2 linked regions of the Homo sapiens genome follow. The protein of the gene in region 2 purifies or fractionates together with the protein of the main gene of each other region. This does not show direct contact. Each region holds a gene or a part of one and is shown on either strand. Other genes may lie near its edges.

The links. Proteins that work in one complex are often made in the same cells at the same time.
Region 1: the proteins of DNAJC1 (region 2) and DCAF8 purify together in Homo sapiens (affinity purification with mass spectrometry, with the first as the bait; one large-scale study listed by BioGRID). This does not show direct contact.

The regions. Positions count from the first base shown.
Region 1 is NC_000001.11:160,252,463-160,256,119, forward strand, and holds part of DCAF8 (DDB1- and CUL4-associated factor 8), read right to left. Parts: intron 1-3,657. UniProt on the Homo sapiens protein: May function as a substrate receptor for CUL4-DDB1 E3 ubiquitin-protein ligase complex.
Region 2 is NC_000010.11:21,916,579-21,920,235, forward strand, and holds part of DNAJC1 (dnaJ homolog subfamily C member 1 precursor), read right to left. Parts: intron 3,352-3,657; coding exon 3,254-3,351; intron 2,295-3,253; coding exon 2,201-2,294; intron 1-2,200. UniProt on the Homo sapiens protein: May modulate protein synthesis.

The sequences.
Region 1 (3,657 bases), on a different chromosome or scaffold from region 2:
TGGAGGTTAAAAACCTGACATGGTCAAGAAACATATATGGGTAGTCTACTTTGGCTAGATGGTAAGGTATAGTTGATTAGTTAAGAAGTATAATAAAAGCTTTGTTGTTGGGGGGCAGGCAGTCAGGCATCAGAGAAATTATTTTGTCAAAGATAATAAGATGGACTGAAATGAAGGAAAAGGAAAGAGAAACAAGTTTAAAAGCTATTATAGTTGCCAAGATAAGAAGTAATGAGGGGCTGTCTTGGGTTGATGGCAAAAGGAATTAAAAAGGGATCAACATGAGAATCGTTGTAAAGGTAGATAATGTTTAGCTCAATAAGCAGTTACAAAGCTGAGTTAAGAAGGACAAGTTCTTAGTCTGGCGCCCAGAGAAAATCAAGTGACACAAATGAGAAGCTGGCAGGTGGGATGAGAAATTATTCTGAATAAATTTAAAATCCAAGCCGACATGTTAGGAAGGTACTGACGAACAAATTTAAGTTTGGAACTTAAATAAAGTAAGGCCAGAGATACAGACTTGTGAATTATCTGTACAGAGAAACTTCAAAATCAAACACCTTGTAAATCATATCTCACTAAAACAAACAATTAGTTACCTAAGAAGGCTCTGGGAGAGGATGTTCAAGGGAAGAATCTTGAGGAATACCTACCCTTAGAGAAGAGAAAGGAGAGCAGAGAGAAAAATTGAGAAGAACGAATAATCAAAATTAAACCTCTGGAAGTCAAGAATAAAAAGGTTTCAAGGTGAGGATAGGCTGGGCGCAGTGACTCATGCCTGTAATCCCAGCACTTTGGGAGGCTGAGGCTGGAGGATCGCTTGAGTCCAGGAATTTGAGACCAACCTGGGCAACATCAGGAGACCCTGTCTCTAGAAAAAATTTAAAAATTAGGCTGCGCACAGTGGCTGACGTCTAAGTGACGCTGGTAATCCCAGCACTTTGGGAGGCTGAGGCGGGTGGATCACCTGAGGTCAGGAGTTTGAGACAAGCCTGGCCAACATGGTGAAACCCTGTCTCTACTAAAAATACAAAAATTAGCCACACGCGGTGGCATACGCCTGTGATTCCAGCTACTCAGGAGGCTGAGGCAGGAGAATCACTTGAACCTGGGAGGCAAAGGTTGCAGTGAGCCGAGATCGCACCATTGCACTCCAGCCTGTGCGACAGGGTGAGACTCCATCTCAAAAAAAAAAAAAAAAAAAAAAAAAAAAAATAGCAGGGTGTGGTGGTGTACACCTGTAGTCCCAGCTACTTGGGAGGCTGAAGTGGGAGGATCACTGGAGTCCCAGAGGTCGAGATTGCAGTGAACTGTGATGGGGTCACTGCACTCCAGCCTGGGTGACAGAGCAAGTCCCTGTCTCAGAAAAACAAACAAAAAAACCAAGAAGGTAAGGAGGATAGTCCATGCTTCCAAAAAAATACAGAGAACAGTATACTGTCAAAAGGCTGTAAGAGTCAGAACAGCTTTTCCCCTGGAATTATCTCAGAGATTGAATGGAATGCTGATTTTCTCTCCAGTAAAGAATCATAAAACACTAGGATTCAGCTATCTCTTAAATCTATAAAAATTATTTCCTGGGATGGGTGCGTGGCTCATGCCTGTAATCCCAACACTTTGGGAGGCCGAGGCAGGCGGATCATGAGGTCAGGAGTTTGAGACCAGCCTGGCCAACATGGTGAAGCTCCGTCTCTACTAAAAATACAAAAATAAGCTAGGTATGGTGGTGCATGCCTGTAATCCCAGCTACTGGGGAGACTGAGGCAGAAGAATCGCATGAAACTGGAAGGCAGAGGTTGCAATGAGCCAAGATTGTGCCACTGCACTCCAACCTGGGCCAAAGAACGAAACTCTGTCTCAAAAAAAAAAAAAAATTGTTTTCTTAAAAACTCATTAGCTTACCAATATAGCATAACTATGTCTAAACAATAAAAAAAGTTTGTATTCCTACTGTCATTTGAATAATTTATATACATATGTTTATAAGAAATATTTAATTCTACCTTTCAGCTTCATCTCTTGGCTTTGAAAAGCCCTGGTTTTTTTTTTGGCCAGGTACCATGGCTCACGCCTGTAATCCCCACACTTTAGGAGGCCGGGCCGGGTGGATCACGAGGTCAAGAGATCAAGACCATCTTGGCCAACATGGTAAAACCCCATTTCTACTAAAAATACAAAAATTAGCTGGGCATGGTGGCATGCGCCTGTAGTCTTAGCTACTCGGAGGCTGAGGCAGGAGGACTGCTTGAACCCGAGAGGGGAAGGTTTCAGTGAGCCAAGTCATGCCACTGCACTACAGCCTGGCGACAAAGCAAGACTCCATCTAAAAAAAAAAGAAAAAAGAAAAGTCCTATTTTTAAAGACAGCATGTGTTATGAAAGAAAGAAAAGGGCTTTGGTGTCAAACAGACCTGGGTTTGAATTCTACCTCTACCACCTGCTTTTGAGTTTTTCTTTTGTAAAATGGGATAATATTACCACCCTGCAGGAATTTAGAGGATTAAAAATAATGTATGCTAAGAGCCTGTTTGTACATAGTAGCCATTTATATTATTTTTCTAGTTTCCCATCTCTATACCAGACTACATTTCCTAGAAAATCCTGGACCTCTTTACCACTCAGCAATGATTCTCCAAACATCGTATATAATATAGGACACAGTCCCAAGTCTATGAAATCTGCTTACCCTTTCTGGCGTTTTAAAGAATTCAGAGAGCTCCGTTAATATCTTCTTTCAAGTATTCATGTTCTACGAACTGCAGTAAGACAATCTACCCAGGAACCCACAATATAAGCCTCCCTAAGTTTTTCTCCCTCTTTTAATTTTTAAAATAGATTTTTTTACTATTATTATCGTAGAGACGGAGTCTCACTATCTTGCCGCGTGGTCTCAAACTCCTGAGCTCAAGTAATCCTCCTACCTTGGCCTCCCAAAGTGCTGGGATTATAGGTATGTACCACCACACCTGGCCTCTTCTCCCTCTTGAAGGTTCTGAGGATACCCAAGATGGAAGACTGCAAAGCAATCACCATGGATAATGATGAGGATTCAAACTATGAATAAGGAACTTTGTTCCTTCTTTGAATTAATGCCTTCTCTCCCTATTGGTAACATAAAATGCCCAGTGTTTATAGTTTACTGGCTTTAATTATTGTTTTTTTATTTTTATTTTTTTGAGACAGGGTCTCACTCTGTCACCCAGGCTGGAGTACACTGGTGTGATATTGGGTCACTGCAACCTCTGCCTTCTGGGTTCAAGCAATTCTCCCGCCTCAGCCTCCCAAGTAGCTGGGACTACAGGTGCATGCCACTGCAGCTGGCTAATTTTTATATTTTTAGTAGACACAGGGTTTTGCTATGTTGGCTAGGCTGGTCTCAAACTCCTGACCTCAGGTGATCCGCCCGTCTCAGCCTCCCAAAATGCTGGGATTACAGATGTAAGCCACCGTGCATGGCCTCTGGCTTTAATTCTAATAACAGTATTTCAGACTATGTCAGGAATGCACTCTAACCCTTAAGTGTTAATTTCCAGCAGCAGAACTAAGCAAACTTTTTTTTTTTTTTTTTTTTTTTTTTTTAAGAGACAAGGTCTTGCTATGTTGCCAGCCTGAAACTCCTGGGCTCAAGCAGTCCTCCCAACTCAGCCCCCCGAGTAGT
Region 2 (3,657 bases):
TATCATTTTTTATTCTTAGAGCCTTAACAGGGCTCCTTTTTGACCACTGTTCCAATTACCAATCCAGATAACTTCGGGTGAAAAAGACTTGTTGTAAATTTCATAAATATCGTATTTAAGAAGATCTAAAATTAATACAAAGGTCATCACATACTACAAAACAAAAAGCGACAAAAATCTAATCCTGAGAGCAACTGAACAGTATTGTTTTGCTAATGTATTTCATAAGCAATCAATCTAAAGTACTTTCTAAAGTATTATAATATATATTTGAAAGAGTCTACTGCATTACATTATTTTGTTAGTGACCACTAGAAACACTAATCTAAGGTCCCCACAGCAGAATAAAAATATCAAATATTTCCTTTAAAAAGGAAAATCATCTTAATTTTCTTCTTGAAATCCATTTATCAAGAAGAAATAATTAGAATAAAATTTAAAAATTAGATTTAAAAGGTCTTGGAACCCTAATGCCTAGCATCTCAAAACCGAAAGGCCAGCAGATACCATCAAGTAAGTAAAAACTTTAAAATTCAAAGTGATCAGTTAAAAAAAGCAGAGTTTCTAAAGAAACTAAAAAGTTTCTGTAAAATTCCTCATTTTTGTATATTTTCTACAAATTTATGATGAGGCAAAACAATCAATCTATTACATGAATTAACAGCTATCACAGGCAAGTATTTTAAAGTAAATTATAAATCTAAGCCATAACAATATGTTGGTTCTAGTCTGGCAAATTACCCTGCATGCTAAACAAGAAATATGTTAATTTTACCAAATAAATTTTATTTCAAATTAGATTAAAATTACAAAGAAGTGTTTAATATTGATATCTTATGTAATATTCTATTTATACTGCCTCATGAATATACTTTTTAACTCATCTATATTCTGGTTTGCCTATTGCACGGATTCTAAAGTTGGCAAAAAATAATCAGACTTCAAAAAATAAGAAAATCTGCCCTAAAAATATTTTCTGCCTCATTTTCTCATAAACATACCAGTGTGATAAAGACTTTCCCTCCCTCATTAAGTCTTACAGACAGCATACAAACATTGCAGAGTATTTTTTCAAGCAAACAATATAACACACTAAACAACTTAAAAACAAACCTTTTAAATTACCAAAATACTGTAATTTTTCTCTATTAACTGTAAACAAAATATAAGATTCTATAAGCAATAACTATTAAGATGAACTATTTTGATGGAAGAACTGGTAATTTCTCAAAGGATAAAAAGAAGCACACTAGTATTTTGGTTCAATATCCCCTTTAAATATAAAATTTTCATTATGAGAAAAATAAAGGAAAATGCAGAAGTTGTAGTCATTAGCTTCCTTAAAAAATCAGGAAAAATAGCTCTAATATATAACTACAAAGTGGGTAGAACTGAATTAGAATATTATCTGGTCCTCTAGATTATAAACACTTATTTTCTAAAATAAAACATTTCTCTCCAAAAAATTACAATCTCAACCTCAAAATCTGTACACCAAAAAGTGTTTTATTTACTTTCAAATATTTATGTGTTGGGGATTTTCAAACCTGATGCAAAAATCAAAATTAACAAAGCAATAATTTAATAAAATATGCTTTGGTATACTAAATGTAAAAAAATAAAAGAAACTGACATCTAAATATGATACATATCCACATTTTATTATTTAATCAAGACTAAATAGAAACAGAAACTCATTACCTGTATAAGACAAAATGTCCTCACTCCTCTTAAATTTGCAAATAAAATGGAAAGCAATATATATTTTGGTACAATTATACAGATGTTCATGTAAAGTTTTTTTTTTTTTTTTTTAACACTATGTACTTAAATGCTATTAAAATAATGGGTGGCAAGCTACTTGAATACTGTTCCTTTTTACTGGTTATGCTTTTAATGATAACAGTGGATTAAATTTTTATTGCTTTTATCTCTGTACTAAAGATAGTATGTTTTTTTCTTTTTCTAGCATCTTGGGACTCTAAGGTGATCTAAAACCATTATAAAAGATAATTACAGAAACATATCTAAATTATCTTAGAATTATCTAAATTAGGTTTAACTTATAAAAATCCTACTCAATCAACATTATAAAGCATCCACTGCATATCAGCATTCAGAGAGCCGACATGGGCATAAATTATTTCATGAGTGATTAAAAATAAAAGATCTAATGTTATATAAAAGAGGTACATTTTACCTGGATGAGGTGAGGTAATGCTTTTAGTGTAAGGCAAAACCAAATCCCCAGTTTGCATGGAAGCAAATCATGCCACTGTGGTTTCATCAGCAATCTAAAGGGAGGGAGAAAAAAGAACACCATACAACATATGAGGAATATACAGAGAAAGTTGGGAGGCAAAATAATTCTATAAAGATCATGAATTCTTTTGTGAATGGCTACTTCAACAAAAAAAATGAAGAAAGTATGCACTGAAATATTTATAACTGACTTACTCCATCATGAAATACAGTAGTCACAACAAATGCAATATATATAGCATGTAAGAGAATCTAGGCTAAGATTTTGGGGAAGGAGGCTCCTAATCAAGTTACAAAGATAAACAAAAGCCTTCTTTCTAACCTGGGCTTTTCATCACTTTTGTACAACGAATTCTTAAGCCTTATGATTACTTCAGCTATAAAAAACTAACCATCATCAGAGTGTTCCCAAGTGCTGACAACCAGATATGAAGACTGTAGCATAAACAAACCAATACATAAAAATTAATGTCATTTGCAGTTCACTGAAGCATTACTCACTGATGTCATCAGAATAGATGACAGGCAGAATAGTCTCTGATCTCCATCCCACATTGATCCCAGTTCATGCCCTGCTGTGTGAACTATTTAAACCCTTTATTCCTTTCTATGAATCAATAGAAGAAATGGTGGTATCTTTTTGAGTGTACTGCATATCACTGCCTCTCTACATACTGTCACTCCTGAGCTAAGTGATAGGTCCGTCTAATAGTACTTTGTTTCTAAAGTTCAGTATAAAAATTTCAAACTAGAAGAATTTGAGGGATTATTTAAATATATAGTCACACTTTATATGGGGGAAAAAACCTGAAGACATTTTGCTTAAGATTAGAACTTGTCTCATAAACAATGGCACATTATTAGTCTTTTATAAGACTACCACAGATATAAATGAGAGCACATGTAAATAGACATACATATGAAGTTGAATCATATTAAAGATGTATTTTAAAACAGCTTCAAATTATAAAGTATTTTTATATGCTCTCACCTTTCATTTTTTTCTGAAGCACCGAGTTTTGATACATCCACACTCTTGCTGCCAGTCTTTTTTTTCTTTTCTCTCTTTTTTCTACTTAGTAGTTCATCCTTAATGTGGAAAGAATTATGGTTACAGGTTATCATTAACATGTACACTTCAAATGTTATCTAGGCTCTTCTGTGAAGGGTAAACATTATAGAGGAACATTTATGCAAATGTATGTAGGGTCCAACATGATTAAGTAAAATCATCAATCTTTCACAATAACTGTTGCCATGGTATCCAGGCCTTAAACACACATGAAGTTCAGGACTGTCAGTCATGTGCATCTCCATAGCAATCAAAGTTTTCTAAGAAGAGAAAGCATTCAACTCACTTTTTCTCATTCATCCAACTTTAATAATGTCACTTCA